Regions from separate parts of the Homo sapiens genome. Here regions 1 and 3 are each reported to be linked to region 2. Evidence: microRNA targets listed by miRTarBase, many of them from high-throughput screens and not tested one by one. Region 2 holds a microRNA gene; each other region holds the end of a gene's coding sequence.

Evidence for each region. Region 2 holds the annotated microRNA hsa-miR-5590-5p (UUGCCAUACAUAGACUUUAUU, at 2,926-2,946, opposite strand). A microRNA usually pairs through its seed, bases 2 to 8, with sites in the 3' UTR of a target mRNA and lowers its output. Matches are read on the target gene's strand: a 7mer-m8 pairs with bases 2 to 8, a 7mer-A1 pairs with bases 2 to 7 and ends in A, and an 8mer does both.
Region 1: miRTarBase lists TMEM81 as a target of hsa-miR-5590-5p. The part of its 3' UTR that is shown has no 7-base or 8-base seed match.
Region 3: miRTarBase lists VMP1 as a target of hsa-miR-5590-5p. Seed matches in the 3' UTR shown: 7mer-A1 at 1,779-1,785.

Annotation. Positions count from the first base shown.
Region 1 is chr1:205,080,086-205,084,333 of GRCh38, forward strand. It overlaps TMEM81 (transmembrane protein 81), which reads right to left. Exons shown (of 1, transcript NM_203376.2): 1 at 3,044-4,248. The coding sequence starts at 4,235. The coding sequence ends at 3,468. Among named protein-coding and RNA genes, the nearest start is that of TMEM81, 2.2 kb to the right of the region's middle.
Region 2 is chr2:134,856,518-134,860,765 of GRCh38, reverse strand. MIR5590 (microRNA 5590) reads right to left here and starts at 2,946; the gene lies at 2,893-2,946. It overlaps ACMSD (aminocarboxymuconate semialdehyde decarboxylase), which reads right to left. Exons shown (of 10, transcript NM_138326.3): 3 at 1,409-1,505. RefSeq lists a silencer at 1,641-1,841.
Region 3 is chr17:59,839,529-59,843,776 of GRCh38, forward strand. VMP1 (vacuole membrane protein 1) reads left to right here. Exons shown (of 12, transcript NM_030938.5): 12 at 240-2,727. The coding sequence ends at 383. MIR21 (microRNA 21) reads left to right here and starts at 1,738; the gene lies at 1,738-1,809. RefSeq lists enhancers at 1-60, 784-1,513 and a silencer at 2,799-2,993.

The DNA of each region.
Region 1 (4,248 bases), not on the chromosome of region 2:
AGCAAAAGGGCAAAAGAGCTTGCCTGAGGGGACTCCTACTGGCCAAAATTGGGGACAATTTGAACATCAAGATAATGATCATTTGTACACCAAACCCCCATGACATGCAATTTACCTATGCAACAATCCTGCACATGTACCCCTAAACCTAAAAAGTTAAAAAAAAGATAAAATGATAATGGATTATATATAGCTCACTGAATAAGAAGAATCTATTGAGACCTCAAAAATAAAGAGGGTAAAAAGAGTAAGCTCTTCTTTACAGAGAAATGCAGGCTAATATAGGTAAGATGAACATAAAGAATTGCCAGTTTGCAGTCCCCAACATGTAATGTTCAACAAGGCAAAAACAATGGATGCCAAAATATGTGAAGAGTTTTTGGAGAGCCATATAATCATAAAGTATTACCCCACAGACTATGAATTACAAAGGGGAAAATACACACACACACACACACACACACACACACACACACATTGGTGGTGAGATCTGGCCATCCACCACCTTAACCAAATGATCAAGCTTATTATCAATAGTGGGTCAACCTTGGCTGGGCGCGGTGGCTCACGCTTGTAATCCCAACATTTTGACAGGCCGAGGTGGGCGGATCACCTGAGGTCAAGAGTTTGAGACCAGCCTGGCCAACATGGTGAAACCCCATCTATAGGCGTGGTGGCACATGCCTATAGTCCCAGCTACTCAGGAGGCTGAGGCATCAGAATCACTTGAACCCGGGAGGCAGAGGTTACAGTGAGCCGAGATTGCACCACTGCACTCTAGTCTGGATGATACAGTAAGACTCCATCTCAAAAAACAAAAACATAAACAAAAACATGAGCCTTGTAATGTGGTGCAGTTAAGTACATATCTACATAGGGCTCTTGTCAAAAATGTTTAAGATTCATTCCTCATGAATCTACTCATGAGGAAATGGCAAATACAAATTATGGAATCTTATCTAAGACAACTGGAGTAAATTATTCAACGAAATCAATGTCATGAAAGACAAAGGAATGCAGGAGGTCTGTTGTAAAAGAAGATACTTAAGAGAAACATAACACATGAACTTCTATTTGATCCTGGATCAAAAATGAAATTAAAAAGCTGTTAAGATTTTGGATATTGAGAAGTGAATACAGGCTGAGTATCCCTTATCCAAAATGTTTGGGACCAGACATGTTCCAGATTTCAGACTTTTTCAGATTTTGGCATCTTTGCATTATACTTATAGGTTAAGCATCCCAAATCCAAGAAATCCGAAATCTAAGCTCTTCCAATAAGCATTTCCTTTGAGCACCATGTTGGTACTCAAAAAGTTTCAAGTTTTGGAGCATTACAGATTTCAGGTTTTCATACTTGGGATGCTCAACTTGTATAAACTATATAAGATTAAGAAATTGTTAAATTTTGGCCAGGTCCAGTGGTTCACACCTGTAATCCCAGCACTTTGGGAGGCCGAGGCAGGTGGATCATCTGAGGTCAGGAGTTTGACCAGGCTGGCCAACATGGCGAAACCCCGTCTCTACTAAAAATACAAAAAAATTAGCCAGGCATGGTGGCAGGCACCTGTAATCCCAGCTACTCAGGAGGCTGAGGCAGGAAAATCACTTGAACCTAGGAGGCAGAGGTTACAGTGAGCTGAGATCACACCATTGCACTCCAGCCTGGGCTACAAGAACAAAACTCCGTCTCAAAAAAAAAAAAGAAAAGAAAGAAATTGTTAATTTTTTGTTGTTGTTTTTGAGACAGAGTCTTGCACTGTCGCCCAGGCTGGAGTGCAGTGGCGCAATCTCAGCTCACTGCAAGCTCCGCCTCCTGGGTTCACACTATTCTCCTGCCTCAGCCTCCCGAGTAGCTGGGACTACAGGCGCCCGCTACCACACCAGGCTGATTTTTGGTACTTTCAGTAGAGACGGGGTTTCACCGTGTTAGCCGGGATGGTCTCGATCTCCTGACTTCGTGATCTGCCCGCCTCGTCCTCCCAAAGTGCTGGGATTACAGGCGTGAGCCACCGCGCCTGGCCAGAAATTGTTAATTTTCTTAGTGTGATAAAGATATTGTGGTTACAGAGAACATCCTTATTAGGAGATGCATACATGGTTTAAGAGTTAAGAGTTGCAATGTCTGTGACTAGCTTTCAAATGGTTTAACAAAATCAATCTATATTGAGAAAGATAATTGTGACAAAATGTTAATTCCTGGTGAATTTTGGTAAAGGTTCTATGCATGGTCACCAAACATTTCTTTCAGCTTTTCTATGGGTTTGAAATTTTTACAAGTTAAAAGTAAAATAAATAATAGAGATCCTTTGACCATAATTTAAACTGAATTAGCATTGTCAGGATTAGAGCTCAAGAACCTTTATTTTTCACAAGGTCATCCAGATGATTCTAACACACATCTAGAGAATCGCTGGTCTTTGGTTTCTGCTACCTCCTGTAGTCAGAGAAAAGTGAGAGGAAGAAATGTTGTAATTCTCTCAGTAGAATTAGCTCAGCTGGTGGCCAAGAGTCTTTCCCTGATGGTTCCACAAGCCAATTATCTCAGACACGGTCCGAATGGCCTCGGAGTCTTAAGACTGGATTTCCTATGGAGGAATCAAAGTACTAATCCTCCTTTGGGGGCCTTGGCTGCTGTAAGAAACCAATACTTGACCCTCCCAGGAATAGAAGCTTCAGGGCACTGAAAGAGCTAAAAGGACTGGAGTGGAGGCAAGCCAAGGTGCTGTCTGAATGGTAAGAGGAAACCTACCAGGTGAAGGATCTAGTGTTTTGCCAAGAAATTCAATTTAATACCAAACAGGGGATTTACCTGGGCAGAACAGGCAATTTGTTAATATTTAGTGACTGTTACACACCTGAGTTGGATGTCATTACTAACAACCCCTGCCATAGGCTTATGCACTGCACCCCCTGCCCCCAAAAGCAGACAATTGGTTTAATGTCTATTCTAAGAAACCTGAGGAAAATGAAGCCAGACTGATTATGGGACAATTTAAATAAATACAAGAAACTGAAGAGCAGAAAAAGGTCTCCATACAGCTACTGTGAATTACTTTTATTGAAAAAAAATGTTCACTAAAAAGGCTGAATACATCCCTCTACATGAATACACAGCTCAGAAGAGGGGAAATGGAGGTGGGGAGGCATCCAAGTCATAAAGGGTAGAAAATGAATGCAAGCTTCTTAGAACTCTTCCCAGGAACACAGGCAATGCTTGCAGTTTCCTGGGTACCCAATGGGCAGGGAAGATCAGGAAGAGATCCATGGGACATAAGGAAGTTAGGTTACTGCGCATAGCTCCCAGGAGATTGTCCCCTCCATTTCTCCCACTCATTCTTTTGGCTGTGGGAGTGTTCCCTCTAAGCTGATCCACTACCAGCAGCTGGAACACTCCCCTAAAAAGCTAGCTTGGCTTCCTGGGCAGCCAGTTCTTCAGGAGCAAGGCTGTTAAGTTCTTGAAGCTGTCACTGCTGCAGGCCCCCCCTTAGCGCACAGAGGACAATCCTCACCAACACGCCACCAACCACTCCAATGGCAATTCCTATTCCCAAGGCTGACGCCACCTTCTTTTTCCACTTTGGGTGGTGAGGCTTGGAGTAGCTGTCCAGATTAACTTCCAATCCCTCATCTATTAACTTCTGATCCTCAGTAAGTGACTGATGGAAATTCAGATTCACCAAGTTAGGAGGAAGGACCCTCAACCCAAAATAGAGCCTCTTGACGAGTCTCAAGTTTTTTACCAGCTGCACATCACAGCGATATGTCCCAGAGTCATACTCCTGAGCATATTTAAACTTCACAAAGTGGGAGTTGGCTTGAAAGGGTTTGAAGACCTCATCGTCAGTGGAGATGACACCTCGAGCAAGTCTCCAGGTGAACCGGAAAGCTTCCTGTCCAAACTCCAAGATGTCTGAACTCAGACAGCTAAGCTCAAATTCCTTGCCAATGAGAATGGTGAAATGGAGCATCCCACAGATCCAGTTGGTCAGACATTCTAAGCGCCGAGTCTGACATTTCCTTCTCACTCCATCAGGGCCCACCTCACAGACGGTCTCCTCCTTATAGCCAAGGCCACAGGTGACAGTACAGGTTGTGGCATTGATGATAACTTTCCCCACAGCTTCTTGCAGCTTCTCAGGGATGGCCAGTGTTTTAGGTGTAGTCACCACCAAAGGCAGGTAGAAGGCCAACCCCAGGCTCCCAAGGACAAAACTAGTGGCTAAAACCTTCATGTCTCGGTAGGCG
Region 2 (4,248 bases):
TTATAGGCATGAACTACCACACCTGGCTCTATTTTTAATTGTTAAAAAATATATAAAGCAAAACCTGGACAAAGGTATCTACAACAAATTCCAACATGCTGGAGACCACCTACTCACTTTAGGCTGACCGTTTGATTCCTTTTTTGCAGACCTTGGAATAAAATGTCTCCTGCCATCTCTTTGTATATTTGAACTTCTTACAATTTGTCTTTGATTAGGAAGGTGGTAGTGCTAAACTGCTCTTTTATTTGTGTGTTTGAATTGTTTCTTTTCTGGTTGAAATCTTCCACCAATGTAAACACTTAGTTCTGACAATGTCAGTGGTGGTCAGTTCCCCATCACAGCCCATGGACACAGCCCACATGTGTCTGGAAGGCTCAGGCATTTTCTTGGAGCATGTTCTCCTCAGGTGGCACAGTCAACCAGGCAGTCACAGGTGAAGCATAATGTGGCCATCATGTCATACTTTAGATAGACTTGGAAATTTCATTTTGTTTTGTTTTGAGACAGAGTCTCACTTTGTTGCCCAGGCTGGAGTGCGGTGGTGCAATGTCGGCTCACTGCAAACTCCGCCTCCTGGGTTCAAGCGATTCTTGTGCCTTTGTCTCCTGAGCATCTGGGATTACAGGCACGCGCCAGCATGCCTGGCTAATTTTTGTATGTTTAGTAGAAATAGGGTTTTGCCATGTTGGCCAGGCTGGTCTCAAACTCCTGACCTCAGGTGATCCACCTGCCTTGGCCTCCCAAACTGTTACTGTGCCTTTTCTGAAATTCTTTTAAATTGTGAGGACTTGTTTGATTTTTAGATATAAGGTAAAAAGTGCAAGATGTTCTTATAGCTTTTTAGCAATTCAGCTTTGAAACGAACACTTCCTAATTCTCTTCTTTCAAATTTCTGGATTGATTTTATTGTAGTGTATTCTGAGATTACACAATTAACTATTTTTAACTGCTTCCATTTCCAACCCTGATGTGTCAGTGGGAATGTTCTGTGTATGATGCACCGAGACAAACTACAGAAAGAAATTGGATCTTAAGTGTTATTAAGCAGGCAATTGTCATTCTTAGTTTTGTGATTTCCAGTTTTTACTATTTTAATTGATTTTATAATAAGTAAATACTATACATTTGAACTAATTTTTAAAAATAATAAAATGCCATTTTTATCTTTTTCATGATATAGCATTCTATTTTAAAACAGGGTATAACTCATATGAAACATTTTGAATCCACACTCTAAAAGCATTGTAGTGGAAGGCCCTGTCCCTCCCACAGTGAAGCTGGAACAGCCTGTCCTGGCAGAGAAAAGGGGGTCAGAAGTTACCATCACATAAAGTTGTCAGCAAACTTTAAGGGCAGACATTGCTTTTACATCAGATGCTAACATTGGTAGCACTTCTCATCGTACCTTTTTGGTCCATTTCTCTAATACGAACTTCTGGATCCCAGCAATTCTCTCGCACCACTCTGAAGACTTTCCCATCTTTCAACAACTTTGCTTCTCCCTGGGGCAGAAAACCCACATTACTAAAATGCAACCTAAGACCACTTGGACTAATCTTTCCTCATGTGCTTTAGAACGTATTTCTTCCCTAATATTTGAAAAGATTTTTACTTAATCCTTGTGGAAGTAGAAATCAGTAATTTAACAAAAATCAGCTTTCTTTCCTCATGCTTTTCTTTGGCCTAGAGTTGAAGGGGTGTGCTCTGTGGGCGTCAATGGCTGGACACAGAGATAGCAAGGTTGAGGTTATGTTTCTCTGGGCTGCCTGACTGAGAATGGCTGATCACCTTGCTGATCTGAACCCCTGGCTACTAGATACAAGAGGATGGCCCAGCGTCTGGAAAATGGTAGTTCTATAACATTTAGAATTGAAAAGAACCTTTGAGATAGACCACCTAGTCCAACCCTCTCATTTTATGGAGAAGCAATATATGGATAATGGCAGTGTATGATTTGTCAAACAGAGCAGGGCCCACTAGTGTCAATACCTGTGGGAGGAGGTGGGCAAAGAAGTCAGTCTGGTAGCAAGCACAAAATTTGGTACTGAGCTACTTCTTCCACCAGGCATCATGCTTGCCTGGGTACACAGCAATAATTTTTATACATTTTAAATGACAAATAAAAATTGCATATATTTATGCTGTACAACATTATCTTTTGATATATGTGTGCATTGTGGAATGGCTAAATCAAGCTAATTAAAATGTCCATTACTTCACATACTTATTTTTTTTGAGGTGATGACACTTAAAATCTATTCTTTTAGCAATTTTCAAGTATACAATACATTTTTATTAACTATAGTCACCATATTGTGCAATAGATATGAACTTATTCCTCCTGTCTAACTGAAATTTCATATCCTCTGACCTTCTCAATCTCTCCCCACCCCTTCAGCCTGTGGTAACCACCATTTTTCTTGATGCTTCTGTGAGTTAGACTTTTTTAGATTCTACATATAAGTACAGTATTTGTCTTTTTATGTCTGGCTTATTTCACTTAACATAATATCCTTCAGTGTTATTCATGTTGTTGTAAATGATAGAATTTCCTTTTTATAAAGGCTGAATAGTATTCCATTATGTATATATGCCACATTTTCTTTATCCATTCATCCACTGATGGACACTTAGATTGATTCCATATCTTGGCTATTTTGAATGATGCTACATTGAACATGGGAATGCAGATATTTCTTCAACATACTGGTTTCATTTCCTCTGCATATATAGCCAGAAGTAGAATTGCTGGATCATATAGTAGTTCTATTTTTACTTTTTCTCAGGAAAACATATGATCATATCAATAGATACAGACAAATTTCTACATCCTTTTATGACTTTAAAAAACCTCAATAAATTAGGTATAGAAGGAATAAAGCTGTGGGATTGCCATACATGAACTTTATTGTTGATCAACACAATAAAGTCTATGTATGGCAATCCCACAGCTAACATCATACTTGATGGTGAAAATGATGAAAAGTTGAAAACTTTTTCTCTAAGATCAGGAACATGACAAGGGGGCTCATTTTGCCACTTCTCAACATCATAAAGGAAGTTCTAGCCAGAGCAATGAAGCAAGAAAAAGAAACAAAAGTCACCTAAATCAGAATGAAAGAAGTTAAATTGTTTTTGTTTGCAGACAACATGGTTTTATACATAGAAAACCCTAAATATTCCACCAAAAAACTGTTAAACTAATAAATTGGGTAACGTTGCAGAATACAAAATTGATATATAAAAGCCCATAGCATTTCTGTATGTTAACAATCTGCAAAAGATATCAGGCAATCCCATTATTTATTTATTTATTTCTCGAGATAGAGTCTTGTTCTGTTGCCCAGACTGGAGTGGAGTGCAGTGGTATGATCTCGGCTCACTGCAGCCTCTGCCTCCCAGGTTCAAGCAATTCTCCTGCCTTTGCCTCCCAAGTAGCTGGGATTACAGACATGCGCCACCACGCCCGGCTAATTTTTGTGTTTTTAGTAGAGACGGGGTTTCACCATGTTGGCCAGGCTGGTCTTGAACTTCTGACCTCATGATCCACCGGCCTCAGCCTCCCAAAGTGCTGGGATTACAGGCATAAGCCACTGCTCCCAGCATTAGGCAATCCCATTTAAAATAGTATTTAAAAATACTTAGGAATGAATCTAACCAAAAAGGTGAAAGATCTGAAAACTATAATACATTGATGAAAAAATTAAAGAAGACACAGACGAATGGAAAAACATCCCATGTTCGTGGATTGAAAAATTGATATTGTTTAAATGTCCATACTACCTAAAACAATCTATAGATTTAATAAAATGCCCCCCAAAATTCCAATGACATTTTTACAGAAATAGAAAAAAAAACCATACATTTCATGTAAACCACAAAAGATCTCAAATAGTCAAAGCAATTTGGAGCAAACAGAACAAAGCTGGAGGAACTAAAAACCTTTTGCACAGTAAAGGAAACGATCAACAGAGTAGAGAGACAGTTTATGGAACAGGAGAAAATATTTGTGAACCATATATCTGATAAGGAGTTACCATCCAAACTATATAAGGAACTCAAAGAACTCAATGGCAAGAAAACAAATAACTGGGTGAAAAAAGGGGCAAAGGACCTGAAAAGACATTTCTCAGAATAGATATACAAATGGCCAATAGGTATAAGAAAAAATGTTCAACTTCACTAATCATTGAGAAATGAGATATCATCTCATACTTGTTAGGATGGCTGTTATCAAAAAGACAA
Region 3 (4,248 bases), not on the chromosome of region 2:
CATCCCATTCTAAACTATGTGATTCAACACTGATTTTACATCCAACAAAGTGAAATCTTGATAGTTGGGTGTAAAAAGGAGAGTAATGGAGATTTCAGAGTAGTTGGGGTTGCTTACTTTTCATTTTTAATTCTTTAGGTTTTGTAAGTTACACACTTCAAGCATTATAGATGATCCTCTTTTTACTACTGAACTAATGAAGCCTTTTTCATTGCATTGTTCTGCATTTATTTCTACAGGGAGAAAACTGGTTGTCCTGGATGTTTGAAAAGTTGGTCGTTGTCATGGTGTGTTACTTCATCCTATCTATCATTAACTCCATGGCACAAAGTTATGCCAAACGAATCCAGCAGCGGTTGAACTCAGAGGAGAAAACTAAATAAGTAGAGAAAGTTTTAAACTGCAGAAATTGGAGTGGATGGGTTCTGCCTTAAATTGGGAGGACTCCAAGCCGGGAAGGAAAATTCCCTTTTCCAACCTGTATCAATTTTTACAACTTTTTTCCTGAAAGCAGTTTAGTCCATACTTTGCACTGACATACTTTTTCCTTCTGTGCTAAGGTAAGGTATCCACCCTCGATGCAATCCACCTTGTGTTTTCTTAGGGTGGAATGTGATGTTCAGCAGCAAACTTGCAACAGACTGGCCTTCTGTTTGTTACTTTCAAAAGGCCCACATGATACAATTAGAGAATTCCCACCGCACAAAAAAAGTTCCTAAGTATGTTAAATATGTCAAGCTTTTTAGGCTTGTCACAAATGATTGCTTTGTTTTCCTAAGTCATCAAAATGTATATAAATTATCTAGATTGGATAACAGTCTTGCATGTTTATCATGTTACAATTTAATATTCCATCCTGCCCAACCCTTCCTCTCCCATCCTCAAAAAAGGGCCATTTTATGATGCATTGCACACCCTCTGGGGAAATTGATCTTTAAATTTTGAGACAGTATAAGGAAAATCTGGTTGGTGTCTTACAAGTGAGCTGACACCATTTTTTATTCTGTGTATTTAGAATGAAGTCTTGAAAAAAACTTTATAAAGACATCTTTAATCATTCCAAAATTGTGTCCGTTTTCTTGAGCGTTTTGATTTTTTACTTTTAGCTTATACCAGCTGAATGGCAGCCTTGCCTAATCCACCTACAACAAGAATTTCTTAAGCTTTCTTTTATTTGCATGAGAGAGCCACTACCAAGGCATGTTTTGTTATGCTGAAACTGGGCTGCTGCATACTGCTAAATGGCACCTCTGGGATTGGCCTACCTGGGGATTTCTTGGTTTGTGAAAACAGGAGAGGAGAAATATCTCATACAAGTGAAAGGATACTGGAGAGAGAAATTACCCATTTCTAAAAAAAAACCACACTCTGTCGTATCTGTGTTAATGTTTTCTAGCATGTACTCTGGTTTCAACAGACACAAATTTATATGTTAACCCAGTTTTCTTGCCGTTCTGTAAGTGTTTTATTCTTAGTGTGATTTTTTTCCATTGGGATGTTTTTGATTGAACTTGTTCATTTTGTTTTGCTTGGGAGGAAAATAAACAATTTTACTTTTTTCCTTTAGGAGCATTATGAGCATTATGTCAGAATAGAATAGAATTGGGGTTCGATCTTAACAGGCCAGAAATGCCTGGGTTTTTTTGGTTTGTTTTTGTTTTTGTTTTTTTATCAAATCCTGCCTGACTGTCTGCTTGTTTTGCCTACCATCGTGACATCTCCATGGCTGTACCACCTTGTCGGGTAGCTTATCAGACTGATGTTGACTGTTGAATCTCATGGCAACACCAGTCGATGGGCTGTCTGACATTTTGGTATCTTTCATCTGACCATCCATATCCAATGTTCTCATTTAAACATTACCCAGCATCATTGTTTATAATCAGAAACTCTGGTCCTTCTGTCTGGTGGCACTTAGAGTCTTTTGTGCCATAATGCAGCAGTATGGAGGGAGGATTTTATGGAGAAATGGGGATAGTCTTCATGACCACAAATAAATAAAGGAAAACTAAGCTGCATTGTGGGTTTTGAAAAGGTTATTATACTTCTTAACAATTCTTTTTTTCAGGGACTTTTCTAGCTGTATGACTGTTACTTGACCTTCTTTGAAAAGCATTCCCAAAATGCTCTATTTTAGATAGATTAACATTAACCAACATAATTTTTTTTAGATCGAGTCAGCATAAATTTCTAAGTCAGCCTCTAGTCGTGGTTCATCTCTTTCACCTGCATTTTATTTGGTGTTTGTCTGAAGAAAGGAAAGAGGAAAGCAAATACGAATTGTACTATTTGTACCAAATCTTTGGGATTCATTGGCAAATAATTTCAGTGTGGTGTATTATTAAATAGAAAAAAAAAATTTTGTTTCCTAGGTTGAAGGTCTAATTGATACGTTTGACTTATGATGACCATTTATGCACTTTCAAATGAATTTGCTTTCAAAATAAATGAAGAGCAGCTGTCCTTCTTTCCTCTTTTAAGTGTTCAGCTGTGGCATGCTCAGAGGTTCCTGCTGGATTCCAGCTGGAGCGGTGTGATACCCTTCTTTTTCAGCTGTTCGTGCCTTCCTTTCTTGTATCCACCAAAGTGGAGACAAATACATGATCTCAAAGATACACAGTACCTACTTAATTCCAGCTGATGGGAGACCAAAGAATTTGCAAGTGGATGGTTTGGTATCACTGTAAATAAAAAGAGGGCCTGGGAATTCTTGCGATTCCATCTCTACTTTGTATAAGTCTCATTTTGTGCCTTACACATCTGCAGTATTTATCATGTTCCAACTTGGTGACTGTCAGGCAGTGCAATACATCAGCAGTTTATCACCGAAGAGCTGAGGAATACCTCCCTTAAAACAGACAATGTCGGCCGGGCGCGGTGGCTCACACCTGTAATCCCAGCACTTTGGGAGGCCAAGGCGGGCAGATCACCTGAGGTCAGGAGTTTGAGACCAGCCTGGCCAACATGGCGAAACCCCATCTCTACTAAAAATATAAAAAATTAGCCGGGCGTGGTGGTGCACGCCTGTAATCCCAGCTATTCAGGAGGCTGAGGCAGGAGAATCCCTTGAACGCAGGAAGCAGAGTTTGCAGTGAGCCGAGATGGCGCCACTGCACTCCAGCCTGGGTGACAGAGCAAGACAAAAAAAATAACAGATGATGTCATATGAAAATGTGCAATGTCCAGTTTTCCCATAGTTTTCTGTATTCTCTGTGTGCATAATCTGGAGTATGAGTCTGGGAAGAAAAAGGTTTTTAGTTTCATTTGGATAGTGGCCACCTCTCCATTCCCTACGAATGCTAGAATGAAGTTACTTTTTTTTTTTTTTTTTTTTTTTTTGAGACAGAGTCTTGCTCCGTCGCCCAGGCTAGAGTGCAATGGTACAATCTCGGCTCACTGCCACTTCCGCCTCCCAGGTTCAAGCGATTGTCCTGCCTCAGCCTCTGGAGTAGTTGGGATTCCAGGCGCCCACCACCACACCAGGCTAGTTTTTGTATTTTTAGTAGAGACGGGGTTTGGCCATGTTGGTCAGGCTGGTCTCGAACTCCTGACCTGAGGTGATCCACCTGCCTCGGTCTCCCAAAGTTCTGGGTTCACAGACGTGAGCCACCATGCCCACGTAGAATGAAGTTTCTTAAATACACTAGTTAATTATTGAAACATATGCAGTATTGAGTGCTCCTACACAAACACGCTCAGCCTCTGCCCCCAGTGTGCTCTGTGCTATCCACAGCCTTAGTAGAACATGAGGCTTTTTGTCATTTCACCAGTCATTCAATAATGACTCATTTGAGTATGGATCATGCACTAGCTAAATAACCAGTTGCGCTCATGTACCCTGAAGCAAATTGTTTAGCCTGACCCATGTGTAAGAAGATCACAGAGATTCCCAACCTTTCAGTGTCAAAAAGCCTTTCCATATATATTACTTTAAAACCCATTTTCCCCCATGTGTAATAGTCTATGTTAATGACGGTTCGGGTTTCTTCTACATTGTTTGTGACCTGAGAAAGTTTAAAAGAGCCTCAGTTTCTTTCATCTATAAAAATAAAAGAGATAGAAGGACAGTTTACCTAAGGAATAAATCTGGTAACATGTAAAGTACTGAAATAGGCTGGGTGCAGTGGCTCATGCTTATAATCCTAATACTTTGGGAGGCCAAGGCAGGAGGATCCCTTTTAGGCCAAGAGTTCAATAAATAGGGCCGGGCATGGTGGCTCACGCCTGTAATCCCAGCACTTTGGGAGG